3 separate regions of the Homo sapiens genome follow, and all the other regions are linked to region 1. The links come from fine-mapping of genetic effects on gene expression. A gene starts in region 1. Each other region holds a variant in brackets. All regions are shown on one strand. Distances are between the middles of the regions.

The links. PIP is the estimated chance that this variant, and not a neighbour inherited with it, causes the effect.
Region 2: its variant is fine-mapped to the expression of BORCS5 in whole blood (TOPMed, PIP above 0.99).
Region 3: its variant is fine-mapped to the expression of BORCS5 in whole blood (TOPMed, PIP above 0.99). The same link has a PIP of 0.9 or more in blood mononuclear cells.

Annotation. Positions count from the first base shown.
Region 1 is chr12:12,352,294-12,360,476 of GRCh38, forward strand. It overlaps BORCS5 (BLOC-1 related complex subunit 5), which reads left to right and starts at 4,785. Exons shown (of 4, transcript NM_058169.6): 1 at 4,785-5,216. The coding sequence starts at 5,159. LOH12CR2 (loss of heterozygosity on chromosome 12, region 2) reads right to left here and starts at 4,774. Exons shown (of 2, transcript NR_024061.1): 1 at 4,635-4,774; 2 at 3,115-4,512. RefSeq lists a cis regulatory region at 1,515-1,950, enhancers at 4,570-5,248, 6,135-6,214 and a silencer at 5,115-5,194.
Region 2 is chr12:12,473,991-12,482,173 of GRCh38, forward strand. DUSP16 (dual specificity phosphatase 16) reads right to left here. Exons shown (of 7, transcript NM_030640.3): 6 at 6,233-6,356; 7 at 1-4,025. The coding sequence ends at 2,843. Among named protein-coding and RNA genes, the nearest start is that of DUSP16, 85 kb to the right of the region's middle. The variant C/T (reference allele first, on the strand shown) is at 4,772.
Region 3 is chr12:12,461,690-12,469,836 of GRCh38, forward strand. It overlaps BORCS5 (BLOC-1 related complex subunit 5), which reads left to right. Exons shown (of 4, transcript NM_058169.6): 4 at 3,857-8,147. The coding sequence ends at 4,087. Among named protein-coding and RNA genes, the nearest start is that of DUSP16, 97 kb to the right of the region's middle. The variant C/T (reference allele first, on the strand shown) is at 4,186.

The DNA of each region.
Region 1 (8,183 bases):
TGCCTCCCAGGTTCAAGCAATTCTCCTGCTTCAGTCTCCTGAGTAGCTGAGATTACAGGCTCATGCCACCATGCCCAGCTAATTTTTGTATTTTTAGTAGAGTCGGGGTTTCACCATGTTGGTCAGGCTGGTCTTGAACTCCTGACATCAAGTGATCTGCCCACCTTGGCCTCCCAAAGTGCTGGGATTATAGGCGTGACCCACCGTACCCGGTGTTTTAAATTATTTGTATAGATGAGGTCTTGCTACATTGCCCAGGCTAGTCTCAAACTCCTGGGCTCAAGCAATCCTCCTGCTTTGGCCTCCCAAAGTGCTGGGATTACAGGTGTGAGCCACTGCACTTGGCTTACTTAAAAATAAAATAAAAACTTTAATTTCTGGCCTGAGTCATAACTTAGAAATTATATCCATTGTCACTTCATTTCCTGAAGAGATTCTTGACACTCTTCTCTGAGGGTTAGAAGTCCCATCTATGTGGAGAAAGATTTCTTTAAAAGTAATCGGAAAACATGTATTAAGCAGCCAGGCGCAGTGGCTCACGCCTGTAATCCCAGCACTTTGGGAGGCCGAGGCGGGTGGATCACGAGGTCAGGAGATCGAGACCATCCTGGCTAACATGGTGAAACCCTGTCTCTAATAAAAATACAAAAAATTAGCTGGGTATGGTGGCGCGCGCCTGTAGTCCCAGCTATTGGGGAGGCTGAGGCAGAAGAATGGTGTGAACCCAGGAGGTGGAGCTTGTAGTGAGCCGAGATCGAGCCACTGCACTCCAGCCTGGGTGAAAGAGTGAGACTCTGTCTCAAAAAACAAACAAACAAACAAACAAACAAACAAAAAAAAAAACATGTATTAAGCACCTGCAGGGGAAACTAAAGACCAGTAATACCAATGAGATCTACCTTTAAGATGTTCATAGTTCAGAAGGAGAAAAAGTAAATCAATGGCTGTGTAAACAGTTAAGTGTGATGAAGGCCAGGTGTAGTGGCTCATGCCTGTAATTCCAGTGCTTTGGGAAGCCAAGGCAGGAGGATCACTTAAGCCCAGGAGTTTGAGGCCAGCCTGAGCAGCATAGCAAGACTCCATCTCTACAAAAAATAAAAATTAGCATGGTGTGGTGGTACACGTCTGTAGTTTCAGCTACTTGGGAGGCTGAGACAGGAGGATCTCCTAAGAGCCTAGGAGGCTCTTAGGAGGCTGTAGTGAGCCATGATAGCATCACTGCACTCCAGCCTGGGCAACAGAGTGAGACCCTGTCCCTGCCCTCCCCAAGAAAAGAATAAATGTTATGATAGAAGATGGCAACTAAAAAGGCTCAGAGAAGGGACATCTGATCCCAATTTCTGGGAAGAGGTGTTAATTATTGAAGAATGAAGTTATTAGCAGATGAGGAGGAAAAGGCTGAATATTTCAGGAATAGGAAACTGCATGACCACAGGAAATTCAGCCTGTTAGGAAGGTTACCAGTGTACACAGAAGAATAGAGAGAGAGGCTGGGGTCAGAGCAGGAAGGTTTTCATATGTTAAATCTTAAACTTTATCCTAAAGGCATGGGGAGTTCCTGAAGGCTTTTTGTAGGGCAGTGACAGGTCCAGAGACCTAATTAATATTCTAGAAAATTATCTCTACCTGCCACAGGAGGGATGGATTGAGGGACGTGAGGCCAGAGGCCTCTCTTCCAAGAAACGGAAGTGATAAGGCCCTGAAATGGGCATGCAGATAGAGGAGAAATTAAGAGGAGAGGCTCTCCAGGACACAACGATTGGTTGGATGCAGTGCTGACAGTAAGCAGGCTTCTGGCTTGGGAGCCTGGTTGGGTGGGAGTACCAGGTCATATAAAGACACGGGAAGAGGAGTCAGTCTGGAGTGGACAGAGGCATGATGAGTTTTGAAAACGTGAATCCTGGTTTTATCACTCACTAGTTGTGTGACCAAGAATAAATCACTTAACTTTTCTGTAAAATTAGGAAAGTGGTATCTACTTTACACGCAGGTCATAATATAGACCTTTTTATGCAGGTCTAACATATAGACCTGCAGACCTGTAAACTCAAAAAGGCTGTTCAATTGCTAGTTATTACATATACAATAACACAGTTTGCTGCTCATGTAGAAGGGATTTTAAAGGTGCTAAAAGACATCAATCTGAAATGTTTCCTAGCTATAAAGCTCTTCCAGCAGACTCCTTATGTTATATAAATGCTCATTTAATTTTCTTGCCACCAGACTGTAAGCTTCCTAAGTACAGGGATTGGGCCTTGTTGAATTTTTTATTTTTAACGTGTAGCAAGTGCCTAGAACATTTCAGGTTCCCAAGAAATGTTAAGCCAGTGAAGGAAGGAATTTTATCTTCATATGTTCTTTTACTGAATATAGCTTTATGGATATGGAATTTGTATACCATACAATTTACCCTGGTAAAGTGTACTCTACAGTGGTTTTTAATATATTCAGAGTTGTGCATTCATCATTACAATTTTAGAACATTTTCATCAACCCCAGAAAGAAACCCCATACCCAATAATAGTCTACATTTCCCTTCCACCCGTACCCCTCCTCGGCCTTAGGCAACACTAACATATTTCTCTCTCTGTAGTGCTTCTCCTGGACATTTCATATAAATGAAATCTACAATATGTGGTCTTTTGTGATACGCTTTGTTTTTTTTTTTTTTGAGACGGAGTCTTCGCTCTGTCGCCCAGGCTGGAGTGCAGTGGTGCGATCTCTGCTCACTGCAAGCTCCGCCTTCTGGGTTCAAGCGATTCTCCTGCCTCAGCCTCCTGAGTAGCTGGAAATACAGGCGCCCGCCACCACGCCCGGCTAATTTTTTTTGTATTTTTAGTAGAGACAGGATTTCAGTTTGTCAGCCAGGATGGTCTCAATCTCCTGACCCCGTGATCCGCCCGCCTCGGCCTCCCAAAGTGCTGGGATTACAGGCGTGAGCCACCGCACCCGGCCTGACAGGCCTTTTTCATATTGAATAATGTTGTCAAGGTTACTCTATGTTGTAGCATGTATCAGTATGATTTCATCCTTCCCTCATTTTGGCTGAATAAATATTCCATGATTACCACACTTTATTTATCCATTCATCAGTTGATGCGACAGACTATCCTTTTAAGAATGAAATGTTTATTCAAAAGGAAGCATAAAAAACACCATCACATCAGTATGGACTGGTGTATGGAACACAAGACAAATATACTTTTATGTGGAAAAGGGGAAACAAGAACCAGAATGAGTTATTCTCCATTCCTCACCCCTTTTACCTCCTCTCTCACCTTCCCCTCAAAGAGGAAATCTGGGAGGGGATGCAAGGACTCTCCAAAAGGGAATGGTCTCACTGCTTAGTGGGCCCTTCCCAGTCCCATCAGCCTGGTGTGGTTTATGTAAACCTCAAGACTAGTTAGACACAACTTTCTAGAAGCCTGCCCTGATCTCTCAGGCAGTTTTTAGTTCTATCTTCATATTCCCAGAGAACACTGTACTTAGATTCATTTGCATTTTTCTCATTGTATTGCAATGGTGAGCAGAGGAAAGAGCATCAGATAGTCCTAAATAGTTCGACCACTGACCACCTGCTGACCATGGAGGAGTCACCTACTTACAGGCTGCAGGGTTGTTGTGAAAATTAAATAAGGTAAAATAGGGGAAATTATTGTGATATAGTAGAGTGGAAGGGACTTAAAAATCATTTAGTCAACTTGACACTTCTTCTGAGACTTTTTTTTTTTTTTTTTTTTTTGAGACGGAGTCTCGCTCTGTCGCCCAGGCTGGAGTGCAGTGGCGCGATCTCGGCTCACTGCAAGCTCTGCCTCCCGGGTTCACACCATTCTCCTGTCTCAGCCTCCCGAGTAGCTGGGACTACAGGCGCCCACCATCATGCCCGGCTAATTTTTTGTATTTTTTAGTAGAGACGGGGTTTCACCATGTTAGCCAGGATGGTCTTGATCTCCTGACATCGTGATCTACTCGCCTCAGCCTCCCAAAGTGCTGGGATTACAGGCGTGAGCCACCCCGCCTGGCCAGAGACTACATTTTATACATATAAAATCTCAAGGCATTTACTTGAAATTTCTTGACGCAGACAATGTAATATAAAATGAGTTGCAAAGTTCGGAGAACGCTAGAGCCAGCTAACTCCTTGATGGCATTGCATTGCTAGGTCTACTTTCTTGCCCTAGCAAAAATGGCAGTTTCCTTTCTGGATTACTCCCTCCTCACCTTCTGTTAGTTTCAGAGTGACTTGTTGATAACTGCCAAGGTCCCCAGAAAGCGCCTAGCCAAAAAGGTTCTTCACTTCTCTTTAAAGATGTGCACTCCCTAATACATGAAACAGCATTTTCTATTTCTTAATTTTTCTCTCATTTCCAGCTGCTGCTTTCACCGTCTTCTGGTATTTTTTTGTTTGGTCGTCCACTGCTAAACTCCCAGCTCTTCAGAATTCAAAATGAGCTTTGCATCCAAGCTGTTGTGGGTTCGAATCCTGGGTCTATCTAGCGTTTCTTTCTCCATCTGTAAAACAGGGTTAAAAATACCTATTTTGTAAAGTTGTTCTCACATGTGGGTATTGAAGAGCTTAATAGTGTGGGTGGTGTTTTAAAGGTGACGCATCCTTACAACAGGAAAGGGCTTACCCTCTTCCGCAGTTCTGGCTTCGAGGAGGTCAAGCCCTTTAAGGTGGCATCGCCCTAAGTCGCAGGAGCGGGTCTCTCCGCCCCTCCCTCGGGCCGGGGGGCGGGGCCTCCTAATCCGGAACTGAAGGTCTTGCGTAGCCGGCACCGCCCATCTGCGTCCCGGAAGGAGCGAGCTTGCGGAGCGTGAACCAGTGAGTGAAAGCGGCGCCGCCCGCCGGCCGCAGGTGCGGCAAAGCCAGTGTCATCTGCCGGTTCTCTTAGGGCTCCCGGAAAGAAGGAGGGCTAGCCGCGTGCGTTCGCGCCGCGCCTCCTTGCGTTTCTGTTCCCCAAATAGGGCCTCTCCTTCTCCCGCCGCCCAGGCCCCTGCGTGGGCTGGACGCGTCAGCCCCACACATTAGCCTCGCTGCGGCGCCCAGACTCTGCTTTGCCTCCCCGTCCCGGTCCCTGGCCCCTGCCCTGTCGCCCGCCGCCGGAGCGGTGACCGCCCGGCCCGCCGTTCTTCTGCTGCCACCGCTGTCGGCACCATGGGCAGTGAGCAGAGCTCCGAGGCCGAGAGCCGACCCAACGATCTGAACTCCTCAGGTCGGTGTCCTAACCTCCCACCCTCCTCCAGCCCGCCCTGTCCCCTTGCAGAGCGGGCTGCCTCCCAGACTAGGGTCAGGGACTGCGGACGGGAACGCACAGAAAAAGCCTTCACCGTGCTAGTAGGAAAAAAAAAAAGTCACCATCTGTCCTGGCCTCGATTCCCCTGATGGAAGTGCGTGTGACTGCAAGCTAAGCCAGCGTGGGCGCCAGTGCCCTTATTTATTTTCAAAACAGCCGTTTCTCCCAGCTACAGCCTCCTGTTTAAAAGACGAGCTAATTAATTTTTGGCTCTAGTGCTCATGGCTGATGTAGTGAGATTTGGCTCACACAGTGGATGGATTATAGGACCTCTAAGAACAGTCTGTTTCTTAAAAACGGGTGTTAGAGGTTCCTTTTCTGAAGGGATATGTGATAGGTGTCCACTTGCTTTGAACCCTTTAGTGCAAAGGTCTCCAGAAACAGCTTTTTCTTCTCAGAAGGTGTCTTGGTCCGTTTTCTAATCTTGTAGAGGTTGGCCAGACAGCAGGCACTGGTGTTTTCCATTGTTGTTCTCTGTCCATGATTTTTAGACTTCTCTAAGCGTTTGAGACAAGAATGGGAGGATTATTGTGTTTGCAATACAGTGAGTGTTCAATAAATAGATAAAGCAGCTGATGTTTAATTGAGGACCATTTGCTGCTTTTTTTGTTACCCACACGCTAGGACAGCTGGGAGTGCTTTGGTTAAGCTCCGGGGTTGCTAACGCAAATTGGTTAAATCTGGGGCCTAAAAAGAGTCGCCGATTTTAGAAGTTCTCTGTTCTTGATAGGAGCTGTAATTCAGAAATAGGCAAGCTAATAGATCTAAGGGTGTTTCACTTTAAGGTGTGACTTTCAAGACTAGTTCAGACCTACATTCTGGGGACTGGATTGGGGCAGCTTTGAATGGTGAGCAGCATCTACTAGCTTTGCTACGTTTTTCTATTTCCTTGGAAGGGCCAGAGTGTCATATCTGTTATAAGAAATATAATAATTGCCACCTTTGACATTCTTGCCTCTATGGCAGGGCAGAAACATATTTTAGGGGGAAGCGGTGTGGCATCTTTTTAATTTGTTTTCTTGCCCATGAACCAACAGCATTCGAGCATTTCCGATGTTAGAATTTGCCTATTCCCCTGTGCCCGGTACTTTACATACATTTACATATAATTTTTGCAGTAATCCCATTTTACAGATAAAGTAGTAGAGGTTAGCTAGAGTGTTTTGAAGTCCCCTTTCCTCTGGTATCTGGGGAAGGAGGAATCACAATTTATAGCAGGAAAGATTTCTGGCATGGCTTTTGTAAAATGTTAGGTAAATTACCAAAACAGGTAAATAAATATTTCTTGAAAAGAAATAAAAGCAGCAGAGATTTTTCTAGAAGAGTGAATGCCAAGCCTCCGGAGACGAGCTTCTAGGAGGCAGAACAGTTCTATGGCATCCCTGGATTAACCTTTGAGATATGACTATAATGAGCCTGGGAATATTACCTTCTAGAGCATAAAACACTTTAAAGATTCATTCTTGTCCCAGTCTGGAAGATATTTGGGGGAGAGGATGATTTCTTGGTCTAGGGAGTCCTTTATAATTTGAATCACTTCCCTCCAAATGGATTACTTTCTCCCAAGGAACCTGAATTGATCTCCCTCTTTGTCCTCCAAATTTCTGATTTTTGCCTCAGCCTAGAATGGACTTACTGGCTATTTTTGCCCTGGACTAATGCTATAATTTTAAGAGTGAGGGGGCTGTAGTCCTAGCTACTCAGGCCCAGGTGGGAGGATTGCTGGAGCCCAGGAGTTTAAATCCAGCCTGGGCGATGTAGTGAGACTTGACTCTTTTTTTTTTTTTTTTTTTGAGACAGTCTCACTGTCACCTAGGCTGGAGTGCTGTGGCATGATCTTGGCTCACTGCAACCTCCGCCTCCCGGATTCAAGCAATTTTCCTGCCTCAGCCTCCCAAGTAGCTGGGATTACAGGGACATGCCACCACGCCTGGATAATTTTTGTATTTTTAGTAGAGATAGGGTTTCACCATGTTGGCCAGGCTGATCTCGAACTCCTGACCTCAAGTGATCCACCTGGCTTGGCCTCCCAAAGTGCTGGGATTACAGGCGTGAGCCACCGTGCCCAGCCGCCTTGACTTAAAAAAAAAAAAAAAAGAGTGAGGAGGCTGAAGCCTCGGGAATAGGCCAGTCATTCGGGGGTTGAGAACAGGTTTTTTTCCTGGACTTACTAAACATAGCTGGCTTGATGTGGTAGGGTGGATAGACAGCTTTGCAACTCCAGTGTCGCAGAGATGGGCCTTGTGTACCAATAACTTGTAGATGTCTAATTCCTTTCCTAACTGTCTAGCACTGCTGACTTTGGGCAAGTCACAGTTAAATTTTGTACCCTTTATTTCTCATTTTAGAAATAGGGAGATATATATATATATCTCAAGATAGCAGGAGAATTAAAGAGAAAGTAAAAACAATCTGCCTATACTTTTGTGTGCTGAAAAAGAAAATATTTAGTTATGAAAGAAGTTCATTCATGTTATATAATCCTGTAATGGGCTGGGCGTGATGGCTCACACCCGTAATTCTAGCACTTTGGGAGGCCGAGGTGGGTGGATCACGAGGTCAGGAGTTCGAGACCAGCCTGGCCAATATGGTGAAACCCCATCTCTACTAAAAATACAAAAATTAGCCAGATGTGGTGGTGCATGCCTGTTGTCCTAGCTACTCAGGAAGCTGAGGCAAGAGAATTACTTGAACCCAGGAGGCGGAGGTTGCAGTGAGCCGAGATTGCACCACTGTACTCCAACCTGGCGACAGAGCGAGGCTCTGCCTCAAAATAAAATAAAATCCTGTAATGTCTGAGGGTTTTTGTTGTTGTTGTTGTTTTGTTTTTTGAGACTCTTGCTGTCTTACCCATGCAGTGGTGTGATCATGGCTCACTGTGGTCTT
Region 2 (8,183 bases), 120 kb after region 1:
TTAACGTACACAGTAAAGAATGAAGGCTGGCACTAAACTGTTAGCTAATCATCCGGTGTTCCATGTGAATGACAGAACACGGAATAAACCTGATGACACCACCACTTTATTTTGAGCTAAATCCTCATTTAAGTGAGAACAGGACAGGTTTCACCACTGCCTCCTTTGGCAACTTGAGTGGTGGTGTTCCCACCGAGTTTATGGCTGCAAAGATAGGTCTTTTCTCGTATTTATGTATAAACAGGTACCAGTTTTGATTTTATTTAATCATTTCATACATTAACATACATGACACATCAAAATGAGAAATGCACAGTTTAACCGTTCAACAGCTGGCCTTACTTCAAAAGAACACTATATTCATATTAAACATTTACAGTCTTTCCATCTAACTTTACACATGTCCTAAATCATTTTCCAGCACTTCTCACATAGAAGTCTAGTTTTGCTCTTTAAAATCACCATCTGTATCACCCCTAGTAGACGCGAGGGTTTCCCCAATTACATGCTGAAGAGAGCCAGCCACCACCCCACCTAAAGACATCCAAGCAGCTCCAGAGCCTGCCTCCGAGGCCACCCCTTCGCCACGGCAGTCTCGATTCCAAGAACTGATTATCTGACACTAGTGAACCAGCACTAAAGGCTGTAGGATGTGACTACATCACAGTTCCAGAAGGAAGGGGGACCATGGCCAAGAGAAGCCCTAAATGACAGAAGCTCATTAAAACCAAGTCCCCCAAACCTCCTGAAACATCGTTAGCAAGGAGCTACTGCTTTCCTTTCTTAAACATGTTTTGGGCATGACCACACTCTGGAAGTGGTGAACTGTTACACATTTGGTGTGTGTGTACATAACATCAAAAACTACTGTGTGAAACTTGAGAATGTCTGATTAAAGATTTCAATGTATATCTAAAAACTAACTCAAATCGTTGACCAGCACTTTCCCAGTATCATAACAATGCGGCTGACCCTCTTCTGCCTTCACTTTACACCCCATCATAGCACATTATTTGTGCACAACTAGTGAGGTCTGTGCGGCTCATCATCCCCATAACCAAGTCGGTCTGTGTTGAGTCATATCATTCTGTGCTGGTTTTAGAAGTCACCATAGGAAACATGAAGTCACATCCTGGTCAAAAAACTGTCCATTTCTCAAAAACAGAGAAAAACCTGAGATACGAGGCAGCAACTAGCGACACTTACAGGAAGGGAAAGAACAATGACAACACCCGCCCAGCCCCACCCCCAAAAAGCTGCTGTTGTGAATTAAGGCTTCAAAAGAGGACCCACATTGTAGCTGATAAAACTCAAGCCAGGAGGATGTTTGAAAGCCAATCTGCACTATCACTTGTTCCAGTGACCTCCTATGTTCAGCTGCCAGGACCGATTCCATACAGTGATTGTAGGTTGAGGACTGAGGACGCCCCTTTGCTCTCGCTCCATTTTGATTTGCTTTTTCCACTGAAGACACGCCGGCCAGCGTTTCCAAAAACAGCTTGGCCATGGCTTTGCACTCTATTCACAACTGATCAAAACTCAATGGTCTTCTCAGCTTTCTCAACCGTTTTATTCTGAATATTCCTTCCTCACTAAAGCCTCTCTCAGCCCTACTAGTAAATGTGAAAGTCTGAGGCAATCATAGAAACATCAGCCCCATCGCATGCCGAGGGGATAAAAGCCACTAAGGAAACAGGTTTCCTGCTTCTCCTCAGCAATTTGTACCTTTCTTAATCTTCCCATAATTTACCTCCCTAGGAAGTTTCCTATAAAATTCTGCCATATTATTACATTTTACCAACTGTATCCATGCAGTGAAGCAGAAAGGGCAAAAACATCTGCTTTGGCTGAGAATTTGAAGGTGCTGCTGCTCTGCTACCAACCCAAATAAATTCACATTTGGCTTGAAACCAAGTTCATCTTTATTTAAAGGATTGACAATCCCATTTTAAACAATTCTTTGATTTACAAAGAGGGAGGTAGACTCGTTAGCCTCCCAACCTTAGCTTAAATCGTGATGTTGCCAGGTTCCTGGTGGTTCAGCTGAATCCTAGACAGTTTCCCTTCTCTTCATAAAGCTGAGAAGAAAAAAAAATTATCTCCATCTAGGCCCACGGGAATTTTGTGCATAGACAGTTTGAATTGGTCTGAAAAGTGTGACTAGCTACCTACCTATTCACAATGCCTAGAAAATGGGCTACCAGATATGGTAGTGGTCAAAGCCCCGACTTTCCTGTCTGAGGTACTGGGTTTGCTCTAAGGTAGACCTTGGCAAGGCCCCTAATGGTCCGTCCAGCAGAGTGATGCTCGTGTCCCTCGGCTGTCAGGTGAGCGTGGGTTTGTGAATCAGCTTTGGATAGGATCATTTCTCTTGGATTTACCACTAGGCTCTGTCCCTAACAGGGTCTACCTACCTGACCCCCAAGCTGGCTCAGTCTCAGCGCTAAGGTGTACTATGGAAGGGTCCGGACAAAGACTAATATTTGAGATCTCTTAGTAGCACAACGTGAAAATGGTAGGGGATTTTGTCCTCCAACACCAAAGACACTTGCTTTTTTAAGAACAAGAGGATGTGTAATTCACTGAATAAAATGGTTTTCCTCCGTCTAGGGGGGATTCTAGCATCTGCCCTTCCATTTTTGTTGAGAGAAGTATTAGCTGATCTCTCAAATGCAGATGTTAAGAGAGTAACAACTGGGTTGATCCACCTGTTGCTTTTACACCATAGCTCCATTTTCCAAAAATATATATGTATGTACATATATATATTTCAGATTTACAGGGAATTTTTTTGTGAACAAGAAAAAAAAATTGTCTATAGAAGTCACAAGTGTCTTTCTTCTCAGGAGACCTCAATGATTTCCATGCTGCCCGAAAAGCTAGACTGACTGCCCACTTTCCCCAGCTCTTCCCGTGACCTGTTCTCTGACATGATGCTCTCTCCAAATTCCATTTGGCAGCTTCTGCGTTTAAACTGCTTTTCAAAGGGGCTCTCTTCATGCCAGCTCCGCCGCGAGTCAGCTCTGTCACTTGGCTTCTGCCGCCTGCGCACAGAATAGACTTGGTCTCCGCAAGTGGGCAGCTGGCTGCAGCTGTAGGCAGAGTAACTGGCACTGCCTCCGTAGATGGCTGAGGCAGAGTAGAAGTGTGAGGACTCTGTGGCAAAATACCAGCTGCTGGTCAGGGAAGGGGTAGAGGTCTGGGGGGCCAAGATATCCGAGTGCCAGCCCTTAAGGCCCAGGCCAGCAGACTTCGTGAGGTGCTGCTGGCTGGTGGAAAGGCCGAAAAGGAAGCTGGTGTGGTAATTGTCCTCCACGCTCCCACTTCGATGCAGTGGAGATAAAAGGGACCTCTGGGCGGTGCCACTGCTGCTGGTTCTGACCGAATGCAATCGCTTGCTCTGGCTGTCTGAAGGCCTGGCGGTCTGCAGCTTCTTGGGGATGCTGGCTTCCTCCTTATCAGGACTGGTTTCGGGAGTCTGCTCCGATAGTTCCTGAACAGGGGAGAACTGGCATAGCTTGTTGGTCCCATCCAGAGTAGTGGAAGGTTTGTAGTATTCCAAAGCATCTTCTGATGAGGAGAAGCCATGTAAGGATGCTGCCATGCTGGCTGAATATGAAACTGATTTGATATCCAGAGAGAAGGAACGCTTGAGCTTATTGCTGTCTTCCAGCCTGTCTGCGGACAGGTGCAGCCCACTGAGCGCCTGTACCAGCGGGCTGTCCTCTAACAGCGACGGCTGCACGCTGGGCACGCTGGGCACGCTGGCGGGATGCACGGGCCTTTGTCCTGCTGCCTCTGAGGTAGCAGAGTCGGCACAGGGTGGACTGAGGGGCGTCTCGCTTTTCTGTCCACCCTCTGAGACAGCAGGGACAGGTTCATTTGGCTTCTCCAGGTGCAGCAGCTTGAGTTTGCTCTTTGGCCCTGATGCTCCAGTCTGGTTCTTAATCTTCTTCTCATAGTCCAGGAGTTGGCCCAGAAAATTGAAGTTTGGAGATATAGTAGGTCTTTTTTCTTTCACAAATCTGCAGAGAGAGGAAAAAACAAAAACCCGAATTTTACAACTACACTTTATCTTAAGAATATTAAGTGAATAAATGAGATAGGGAATTATCAGGCAGACCTCAAAAACTTTGGAAGATGATTGGTTTACAAGTTCGGGGAGATGCTTCAAGGTGGAGAATACAAAGGCCCTAGGCACTGGGGAAGCTTTGCACACATCCTGGAGTATGCCAGAAGAGGCAGCTGGGCCCCAAAGGCTCTAGTTTTTGTCTCCTTATTTTCAAAGGCCCAGGGCTCCCAATGCAGCTGATAAGAGATGGTATGGGGTTTTGTTGGTGGTGGTCTTTTTTTTTTTTAAGAGACAGAGACTTGTTCTGTCGCCCAGGCTGGAATACAGTGGCATGATCATAGCTCACTGCAGCCTCGAATTCCTGGGCACGTGCAGTCCTCCCACCTCAGCCTCCTGAGTAGCTGGGATTACAGGACTACACGCTTGGCTAATTTTAATTTTTAAAGTTTCTTTTGTAGAGAAAGGGTCTCACTGTGTTGCCCAGGCTGGTCTTGAACTTCTGGGCTCAAGTGATTCTCCCACCTTGGCCTCCCAAAGTGCTGGGACTACAGGTGTGAGCCACCATGCCTGGCCAAGAGATGATTATTTATTCACCACCAAGGACACCCCTGACACACACACACCAGTGCTACCATCAAAAGTACAGTATAACAGCCACTCTCCTTCTTCAATTTCCAATGTCATCCCCTCTTAAAGTCA[C/T]CAGTCACTTCTCAAGACAGTTCACATTTTAAATTTAATGACAAAAAGAAGATGGTATCAGATGATCAAAGTATCAAAGCAACACTTCTTTTTATAGTCAACATGACAGACTAACCAAGACAAAGTGGTCTCTGTGTGCTAAGCACTGTGCTTATGCACTGAATCATCATTTCATCCTCAGAACTACCCTTTATCAGGTGGGTGTCATTATCCCCATCATATAGCTCCACAGAATCCTTAAGTGACTTGCCCAAAATCACACAGCTACTAAATGATGGTGCTGGATTCAAAACCAGGCTGGTCAAATATCTGGGTCCATTTTTGTAACCACTATGTTAAAAAAAAGATTCATCAAAGGATCAAAACTAATACTAGATGGCTTTCATGTTTCATGGAGGAAATAAAGACTCAGAGATGACAGACCAATTCTTCAGCGGCCCCTGCACCTCATGGATACTTTTCAGGTGATGGAGGAGTAGAACTACACTGAAAATTTGCATTTGAATAAGGAACAAGGAAAAAAAAAACTTGGAAATCAAGTAACCTAAAGCAAATTCACAAAAATAGAAATAACTGGCTCAAGAATAACAAGTATAAATGTAGGGTGCTCATAATGAGACTTCATAACGTGATAGAAGGGTGCCTTTTCTTCTGATTTCTACATGGAGCAGGAGGACCTCAGGGAGGTCTGAACGGCGGCATGAGAGCTCGTGCAGATGACCAGAGGACCCACGTCCTCCAGGCTGCTGACTTAACATGGGAAGCTGTTTGGGCAGCTCATTTCTGTTTTCCAAACTTTGCAATTTGAGAAAAAAAAAATCCAACTGTTAAATCAGGCCTGCTCCATGAGTCTCTATATTTTTGATTCCTTATCAGATAAAAATGAACCATCTCTACCCAACGATACATGCAGGGGAGTCAGACAAATCAGAGACTGGAGGCAACCCAGTCAAAATCACACACACACAATCTGGCCGACTCTAGAATGTAGGAAATTTTACTGAAGAATGGAGTCTGACAGTTAATCTGGTTCATATTTGCATTTATGAGGCTTTTTCTTCCCAGCAATCCAAAGTTTGAAGCAGAACAGAGATTCTGCAGTGAGCATTCTATTAGAGCTTCCCCCCATCATATGCAAATTAAAACAAAGGATACTTTTGCATTTAGGGAAAGCAATAAACTCATGTAACAGGATAGAGATCTCTGCCTGGATCTGTTGTTCCTTAAACATAAAAAGTGGCTGAGGATGAGTCTGACACATGTGAAGGCAGAATTAATGCTAAATAGTAAAACAGCATTCTTTTCCAATCTTCACAAGACCATTAAAAAATCCACAGTAACCTGTAAAAAATGTGACTAAAATAATCATGATCTGCTTTAATTTGGTTACCCATCCTCATCATTCTTTATGTTTCAGGTCAAATGAAAAGCCAATCACAGAAGACATTTTCCTGCCCTCACCTGTAAGCTTCATCTAAAGACATGTCCATCCTCTTCATGATGTAGGCGATAGCGATGGTGGCGGAGCGGGAGATCCCAGCTAAACAGTGCACTAGAACACATCCATTGGAGGCTTTTGCTTTCTCTGTATAAGTCAAATGCAAGAAAGGTCACTACTAACTATTTTGTTCAGCAGTGAAATCTTGTTTCCATTTACTTACTCAGTGTCTTCCACCTGAAAACCTCTACGCAAATCTCATCTGTGTATATCATATTTATCCTCGCAATATTCTTTTGAGGAGGCAGGGGAAGATAATTCCCTCACCACTGACATGCAGGACAACTGGGGTCCAAAACTGTTTGTTAATAAGCAATTCGTTAATAAGCAAGCTACTACTAACTCAGGTTTCCTGACTTATGTTAGTATTTTCCCCTAAGATATGGGTAATATTTAATATATTCCTGTTATCTGACACTTCAAATTTTTCCCTGATTACCTAAGAAATATAATTACATTTTTTAAAATCATTATTACTATTTTGAGATAGAGTCTTGCTCTGTCGCCCAGGCTGGAGTGCACGATGTCGGCTCATTGCAATCTCCGCCTCCCGGATTCAAGTGATTCTCCTGCCTTAGCCTCCAGAGTAGCTGGGATTACAGGTGTGCAGCACCACGCCTGGCTAATTTTTCTATTTTTAGTGGAGTTGCGGTTTCACCATGTTGGGCAGGCTGGTCTCTAACTCCTGGCCTCAAGTGATCCGTCCACCTCAGCCTCCCAAAGTGCTGGGATTACAGGAGTGAGCCACTGCCCCTGGCCTCCCTATTTTAAGCAACTTTTCTGTATGTCATAAAATGGCTCAACTTTATTTACTGAGTTTTAGAAGAAAACCTTGTATAGGCTATGAATCAGGTTTAGCAGGTCACTTTAATGAGATCCAAGAGAACTTTTATCCCTTCCTTGATACCAGGAGTTATTGTCTTATGGCATTATCTCAATTCCCCACAACATGATGGAAGGACTCACGGACACTTTGTTAGAACCAAAGAACCAAGGAAATCCAAGCAGTGCTGCCATCTCTCACTGCTGAGGGGCTTAACAATATGTACATGTGGCAGGGGACGAGGTTATTCCACACAGCCTGGAAGCTACTAACATTCTGGCCAGTTCCATGACTGCCTCAATTCTAAATAATTACATGTGTGCTCAGTCATGAAGCTGAATTCTCCCCTTTTCATTCTTGGTAGATACTACCAAAAGTCTACTGAACCTTGTGTTAAAATTCTTGCGATTAACAGATGCGCAAAGAATCTTACTTTGGCAGCTGAATAATACAAAGCTATTCAATCTCACTGCCTATGCTATAAATATAAGTTTCTAGTGTAATGATTATTATATATAACATAATTATTCATCATATATAAAGCAACATACAGGTTTTGGGTAGCATATGAATAATTAAGCAGCAAGCAGCTTCCCTTCTAGATCAGGAAACCAAACACAATAAAACACTAACAAATGAATACCAAGCAACACTCAAACAAAGAATTGCATGCTATACAAGTAAGAACATATAAACTCGTGTACACAGTCTCATGCCTTCCTGTGCCTCCAGCATCCCCTTCCTTCTCAGCTATCATTTACCCCACGTTACTCTCAGTGTTTCCTTCCCTTTCTGCCCTACTGCTAAGAAGCTCAAAGCTAAGGTTTCTACTCAATTTCAATAAGAAGTAGCAATTCAGACTTTTTGTCAGTTACTGTACATTTCCTAGCCCCTATTACTTGATTATTGCTCCTTTATACCATTATAATGTGTATGTGTGAGAATATGTGTATCTTTTGGTTCTAACCTATTATTGAAAACTGCTTCAAATCCTTACTGGAAGGAGTCTGGGTTTTTGTTTTTTAATGTTGACAATACTCTCTCATTAATTTTAATAATTATCTATCTCAAAACCTAGATTATAAGGACCT
Region 3 (8,147 bases), 110 kb after region 1:
ATTTCAGCAGCAGCAGAGTGGAGGAGGGGACAGTGAAGAAGAGAAGCAACAAAGAGTGCATGCCGGCTGCCTTTCCAGGAAGGTGCCTGGAAGCTGCCAGGAGAGACTTCTGCATGCACACACCACTGATTATAACTTGGTCATGTGTCACGGCAAGGCGAGGGTTTTGAGGCAAGAGTTGTGGAGAATAAAGAGTTGTTCACTTTCTATTTGAAAATCAGCTAGTTTATTCATTTAATTTTTCTTAAGTTCCTGAAACAAAGTTATTTGCAATTTATATGTTTCTGGGCCTGAGTTTCCTGGAATAGTAAAGTCATGTTAACAGAAACAGTGGAAAAGAAAATTCATGTTAATGTACACGGTAAGCTGTGTGGGTGTAAGTAGTTTTGGTTCTCAATATCTATCCTAGGACCTCGCATAGTGCATGGCACATGGCACGTGATGCTACTCAATAACTGTCTGTTGCCTGTGTGGTAATAGCTCACACTTACCCAGTGCTCACTGTGTGCTGGGCAGGATGATAATGTTCTCCTTGCAGAATCTCATTTAATCCTCAGGACAGTCTTTTAAGTGGCCACTCTTGTTATCCCCACTACCTTGCAGATGAGGAAACCGAGGCTTACGTATATTTTCATTCATTTATTCAACAAATATTTATTCAGGACCTGCTATGTGCTGGGTACTGGAGATATAGCAGGGTTTAAAGCACACCAAATCCTTGCTCTCATGGAATCAGCCTTCTGGGTAATTTTCTAAAATCACATAGATACTGGGTCGAGGGTAGCCCTTAAACCTAGGTGGTCTGACTCCTGAACTTGCAATCTTAACCGTTGTTTTATTGGTAGATGAATGGATTGATGAGTGTGGTGAACAAAAATTGTGACTATCCATTTCACAAACAGCTTCGTGGTTGCCCTTTAGCTCCAGCTTGGATGGTTAGATTGCCCTGTCTGAAGCTGGATTTATTTTATTTTATTTATTTTTGGAGATGGAGTCTCGCTCTGTCACCCAGGCTGGAGTGCAGTGGTGCGATCTTGGCTCACTGCAACCTCTGCCTCCTGGGTTCAAACGATTCTCCTGCCTCAGCCTCCCAAGTAGTTGGGACTATAGGCGCACACTGCCACGCCCGGCTAATTTTTTGTATTTTAATAGAGACGGAGTTTCGCCGTGTTGCCCAGGCTGGTCTCGAACTCCTGAGCTCAGGCAATCCGCCCTCCTCAGCCTCCCAAAGTTCTGGTATGAGCCACCACGCCTGGCCAAGCTGGGTCTTTTGAATGGCTATGGGTGCTCAGTGAGGCAACCCTAGGTGATATCATAACACCTCTGCTTATCCAGAAGACAATTAGTATATATGTTATCTTGTTAGAATCCATGTGCCAAAAATAGAAATAGGAAAGGCAAATAAGGATATATCCCTAGATTGTCAAAATGGTGATTCAGAATTGTGTGAGATACTGGTTTACTGCCTACAGTCACATCAAATGTGTTACAATGAGCATGTGTCTGGGGGTTCGTGGAGTAAAGGTAGGGATTATGGATCAAGGACAATGTTACCTCAAGAGCAAAGGTCAGAGACATCAAAAATAGGCATCAACAGTTTTACCATCCTTTTCCAGATAGTCCATTGTTGCTTGCACCAAGTTGAGACTTTCTTTGCAACAAAGAATGGGGGAAACATTTAAAAGGTAATAACTTTCCCTACATGTGATCTAGTCTTCTTTAATGCAGTGCCACGTGCCAACAAAAGTCTCATAAAGCACCAGTGATACAGGGTCTTGCTCAGGAAATATGTGTAAAAGAGGGGAGCTGCTGGACTTCGGAGAGCTGGGGTCCAGTGTAGGTTCTGTCACTGTGAGATCTTCAAAGTCACGCAAACTCAAGTTTCCTCTTGCGGTTTTTTTCTTCCATGGAGCATAATGGAAGTAAGACATGATGTCAGCACGCATGAACAACCTGTTTGAACTCAGTGTGCTCATCTCAGCATTAACAGAAAGTGCCTTTACAAAAGCTTTGGAGACATTAAACACGGGCCCCAGCTGGATGTGGAAACATGTAGGGAAGTACATGCCATTTGACAAGTACCTGTGAAGATGGCTGTGAACAGTCTTCATCAGGTGTGAATCGGGGATGGATTGACTGCCAAGGACTTTAGACTTGATAAGTTAGAGCCTTGGAGGCCATTTCAGATAGAAACTCTTCAAGCATCTATCTAGTCTGGTAGGGTTGCGGGGTGGAGGGCCAGGAATGCCCTGCCAAGTAAAATGTGATGCCCGAGAAGGTTCCCAATTCAGGATTCCACCTGGCTCCCACGAGCCCCGCTGTCTCTCAGGTGTGTGGAGTGTTTCTCAGTGCTCATTGCAAGGCCACCCTGAAAAGGCCCAGCGGGTGACTGTCAGGACCACAGGACTCTCCTGGCTCACTACTTCCAAAGTGCTGAGCGCCAGACAGGGCTGCAGAGAACCCCGGAAAGTGTGCATTGTTTCCACATTATTTGGAGTTTCTCACTCCCATGTTTTTTTTTTTTTTCTCTTCTCCTTCTCCCCGTGCCCAACTAGCTGCTCCTCCTGCCCTGCAGGCACTCAAGCAAGAGGCCCGCCAGAGGACAGCAACACTGATGTGCTTCGGTCGCCTCCCGCCCCTCCTGCCCTCCCCACAGATGATAGCAAAAGGGAAATTATTTTTTCTTGGGGCTGGCTTTGGTCCCCCGTGTTTTCATGAGTTTGTTTTTGTGTCTCTCGAAGCCATTTTCAGAGGCTCTCTGGTACCGGGTGTTGAGCCCTTGTCCTGATGCAAGGTCGGGAAGGGGCGTGCTCCAGGAATAAACCAGAAGGAAGGGCTGGAGGAGCCTGGGAACCTTGGGATAGGAGTGTGGGCCTCAGTAGTTGAGCTGTTTTCTCCTGGCCTGGGAAAGAAACAAGGGGTGAGGGGGTGGAAGTGGGGTCCATGCTGAGGAAGGGGTGCAAGTGCCCAACACGATGGCGGTCTCTCTCTCTATTTTTATCTGGGTGATGGGTACTAAAGAGCCTCTGTAAGGGGAAGAGAAGAAGTCACGCAAGGGCAGCCCAGAGCCCGCAGTTTCTTTAATGGGGGAGAAGGGCACATGAGATAGTCCTCACAGTTTGACAAATGTGGTGTGTTGTAAGGACGGGAGCCTTGGTTGCATTTTTGGCCCTGGCAGGGAGAGCCTCCCTTCCATTGCAGTGTTCCCCGAGTGTCCGCCAAACTGCAGCCGTCCAGGGAAGAGAAGGATTGAGTGAAGAACATGCATTTTGGGGTTTGGGATTTTTGTTATTGTTGTTAGAAACAGGGTCTCACTGTGTCGCCCAGGCTGGAGTGCAGTGGCATGATCATGGCTCACTGCAGCTTCGACCTTCTGGACTCAAGCCATCCTCCCACCTCAGCCTCCCAAGTAGCTGGGATTACACGCACACACCACCACGCCCATCTGCTCCTAGTTTTTTTCTAGATAAGCAACCTGAGACACAAAGGATAAGCATTAGCAGCTCATACACGTGACAGAGCCAGATTCAGCCTTGGCCTGACTGATTTCCACATCCAGAATTCCCCTCATATAGGGAGATAGAAATCTCAGGATCTCAACAAGGTACAAATAACGCACATTCCCAGAACATAGAGCCAGGGACAGTCCCCTCTCAGTTCTCTTCTAAAGGTGGTTCTGGCACAACAGTTGATAAAGCTGTGTCCCTGAAGGGCTTTTTAGCCCTGGGTGCTTCCTGTAAAACTTGTCAGCTTCCACTGGATCTGCGGGACTGTGTCCCTCACAGGCTGGACACCCGGCCCTGCGGAGAGGACTTGATTAAACAAGGTATAATGTACTTCTCTTTCCCATCCACAGATGGATCTGTCTGTAGAAACTCTGTTCAGCTTCATGCAGGAGCGCCAGAAAAGATACGCCAAGTATGCCGAGCAGATCCAGAAAGTGAACGAGATGTCCGCCATCCTCCGCCGCATACAGATGGGCATCGACCAGACTGTGCCCCTGCTGGACAGGCTCAACAGCATGCTGCCCGAGGGCGAGCGGCTGGAGCCCTTCAGCATGAAGCCCGACCGCGAGCTCAGGCTGTAGCTGCTGCCCGGCCTGCCTGGGGCTGGGAGCCCCAGACACCGACACCCTGAGGACGTGTGGAGCTAAGGTCATATCATCTGACCAGGTCTGGAGGCTGG[C/T]GGGAGGCTCCCTGAAAGTGGGTGCGAAGGAGTCCGGCTGGCATGAAAATCTGACTTTGCCCAGCTCTTTTCCTTGATGCAGTTTCCCGGTGTGGAAGGAACCTAACCAGTTCTCGGTGATAACTGAAGCTGGAACGTGTGAATTATTAGGAATTCTTTGAAGAACTCTGCATTGAGAATTATTTTTATTTAGTTTTTTTTTTTTTTTAATTGAGAGTATATAGTCCAGTCCAGGTACCGGAATAAAAATATGGAGACAAGGGGAAAATATTTTACGAAGCTCTGTGTTCTCAACGCCCTCATGAACTTTTCAGTAGGCTGTCTGGTTTATGTGTGGTCAACTTGAAAAACTAATTGAATCTAGGTCTCTGTATTGTTCCTGTTTCTACCCTGACTGTTTCCGTCACACCAAGCCCTTATCTGGGGCGCGTCTTCCTGCCCAGGTGGAACACTGGCATTTTGTTGACTGTCAGGTTAGGTGTCCCTTAGTCGTCATCAGAAGCTGAAGCCTTCCTTTCCACACCCTCATCAGATTCATCTCCACTGATAACCGGTTTCCTTGATGCAGACATAGTTTAGCTTTCTTTGACTGCAGAGATGTCTCATTCCACAGACATTTCTTGAACCCATTTGATGTGTCCAATATTGTGCCAGGGATACAAATATGGCCGTATAGCCTCAGGCCTTCATTTCTGAAAAGAAAAAAGCTCAAAAAGCTGCTGAATTTCTCTGGGAGTTTAGGAAAGGAAGTTATTTGAGTAACAACAAAAGTGCTTAGTGTCGTACTTTACACATCATAGGTGTTCTAATGGAAGCAAGGACTGGAGAAGCAAAGAGTGGAATGTGAGGAGCAGACCTAGGCAGACACCTTGAGACTAAAAGTCAGAGCTGAAGGGAGTCGCTGGGGCCAGGACGGCATGCAGGCCTGTACCCTGTTCCCTAAGTTCCTGCAAGCGTCGGGAGGTGTGTTTTCAGATACCAGAAAGAGCCTTCAGTAGATTCACAAGATTAAAATTGATGCGCTTAATTTAATGTATCTTGGCTAAACTTGATCTGATTCTAATCTTGGTTTGAGACAGGGTCTTGTGCTGTTGCTCAGGCTGGAGTGCAGTGGCGCAATCATAGCACACTGACTCCTCAAACTCCCGGGCTCCGGGGATCCTCACGCCTCAGACTCCTGAGTAGCTGGGATTACAGGTGTGTGCCACCAAATCCAGCTAATTAAAAAAAATTAATTAATTTTACATTTTCAAATTCAAAAGAATAATACAATGAATATTCATATTTCTTTCACCTAGATTGACAAAAAGTGGTATATTTAAGACATCACCATCATTGTCTTTCTTCTGGAGTATACAGAACCTGGTTCTGAACACAGGGATATGTTTGTAGCTTCGAGGAATGAAGGGCTGTTTACAGAGCTACAAAAATAGCTTAGGTGCCATTATCCTCACTGCACTTAATACAGGTGACACATGAAAGCACAGAGTGGGTGGCAGTTCAAGCCTGCGAGGGCCGAGCCTTTCCACTGCTGCAGCTGTTAGTGGCTGGCACAGGGCAGGATGGCAGACCTAGTGCAGCACAAACAAACCACGCAGTCAGCCAGCTCTCCAGCCAACTGTGTCTACTTCTAAAGTAGAAGTTAGACAAAACATGGGGTTCACTTAGACTGGGGTCCTGAGTAGGTGATAGGCTACTTATTACTGGGTGGAAGCGGAGAAGTATGGCAGAAGAACAATAGGCAAATTCAATACTCCCGGAAAGAATTCTAGTTAGTTTAATATTTTGATGGCATGTTGTGGTTTCTGCAGTGTCGTGAACTTGGCTAAACTGAACTGTGTTCCCAGAATTCCCTTCCTTGTTTGTTTCTCTGGTGAGGGTTGGCCACGAGAGAGATTTGCATGAGGTTTGGAAGTGGAAGTAGAGCAACAGCCATGTGTATTCACTGGAAGTGGATGTAGGTCAGGCCCTGTTCCATCACGTGCACGTTACCATGGATCTCCTGCACTTGTGGTGTGGGCAGCCGCTGGGCCCACGGCTCCTCCCACTCCCGCAGAACTCTGCCTTTGGCTTTTCCAGACCCTGGGCCGGGTATGAGAACCAGCTTCTTGGTCTGCAGCCACAAGGATGAAGGTTTGGGGATGAGAGACCAGCACGGGCTCTGATGAGAGACAGGTGCAGGTCCCAGCTTGTGGCTTGCAGGTCTCAGTCGTACTTGCTCTCCCTCACCATCCTTTCCAACCGCCTGGCCTGTGGTCTGGTGAAGAAGAAACAGCCGAACCGAGACTTTCACCAGCCCCTCTAATTGCTCAAACCGCTTTCACAATCCTCTCTTTCTACATCATTCCTAGTGGTTCTTTTCTGATGGAACCTCTGACTGGTAACATGGCATTACCAGTCCTTTCCCTCTCATGTTTTGCTATTTCCTGATGGAACCTGGGAGTCTGAGTGATTTGTATTTCAAGAAGCAGTTATGCTGGATCTCTTTGTTGGTTAATACCCCATGACCTATCTGGCCGTTATGGGATATTTCAGGGATAGGAGTTGTGAAAGAGCCCTTGGCTGGACGTTTCTAGCCTTAATCTTTGGCAAGCCATTTCATTTCCCTGAGCCTCAGTTTCCGCCTTCCTACAGCGTGAGCAGGTCTGGGTGGGCTCTCAAGCCCCTTTCAGCTCTAAGATTCCAAGTCTGTGATTCCGATACATCTTGACTACAATGAGCGTGTTTACCTTTTGTCTCTGAGCAGTGGCCCTGGGTCTTGGTAGTGACTAAATTCCGAGCTCCCAAGGTGCAGCTGCTTTTCTTCCTTTTAATTATAAATTAGCTGTTCATTGGCTGCTTCTTTCTAGAGCCTGTTTTGCTTATCTTGCAATCTGTTCATTTCTGTTGATGAACACAGTCAAATAGGCCTCTATGTGCAGTCTCCTGGTTTCCCTGGTCAAAGTGGAAGGTTGGTAGAAACTGGCCTTCATGTCTTTGTTTCCCTCAAAGTTTTATTCTTAGTAACGCTATATATGGTTTTATAGACCACACATATATAGTTTCCTGTGTCTTAGATGATAACATCCTTAAAATATGAAATATATTTTGAACCTAGATACCTACCCAGTATTCTCTGCACAGAGTAAACATTTCATTAAATGAGTTTCAAGGACTCCATACCCTGATATAGGAGTACATTCAAGAAATGAGTTTAGGCCGGGCGCGGTGGCTCACACCTGTAATCCCAGCACTTTGGGAGGCCGAGACGAGTGGATCACCTGAGGTCAGGAGTTCCAGACCAGCCTGACCAACATGGTGAAACCCCATCTCTACTAAAAAAAATACAGAAATTACCCGGGCATGGTGGCTGGTGCCTGTAATCCCCGCTACTTGGGAGGCCAAGGTGGGAGAATCGCTTGAACCTGGGAGGCGGAGGTTGCAGTGAGCCAAGTTCGTGCCATTGCACTCTGGCCTGGGTAACAAGAGTGAAACTCCGTTTAGAAATGAGTTTAGTCTGGGAGAATCTGCTTTTTGAGTAAAAAAGTTTGATTTTATGTATGTGTGCGTCTGTATATATGTTTCTGTATCCTGAGTATTTCTTTGCGGCTTCTTCAGTTATGAAAGAGGTTGGTACTGTTACCCTTACGTTATAGGTATTACAAACTCGGTTTTACAAGGTTACATAAACTAATGGCCCTGGGGCGAATGACGTATGCCACTTTTGTGTTGATTTGTAGAACTTACTTAGCTTTGGCATTTCCCCTAGTAATTCCCAAGGCAAAACCAGGAATTGTCAGAGACGTGACCAGACATGTATTAAAATTCTAGTGCAATTGGGAAACTTGGTCTTCCTGATTTGTTTATACTTCAGCCAAACCCAGATATATAGTGCTCAGCAGAAATTATTCAAAATGTTGATACTCAAGATTGAAGGATGGATTAGGGAGAAATGAAAACTTTTCTTCTTGTGGACTTTTTAG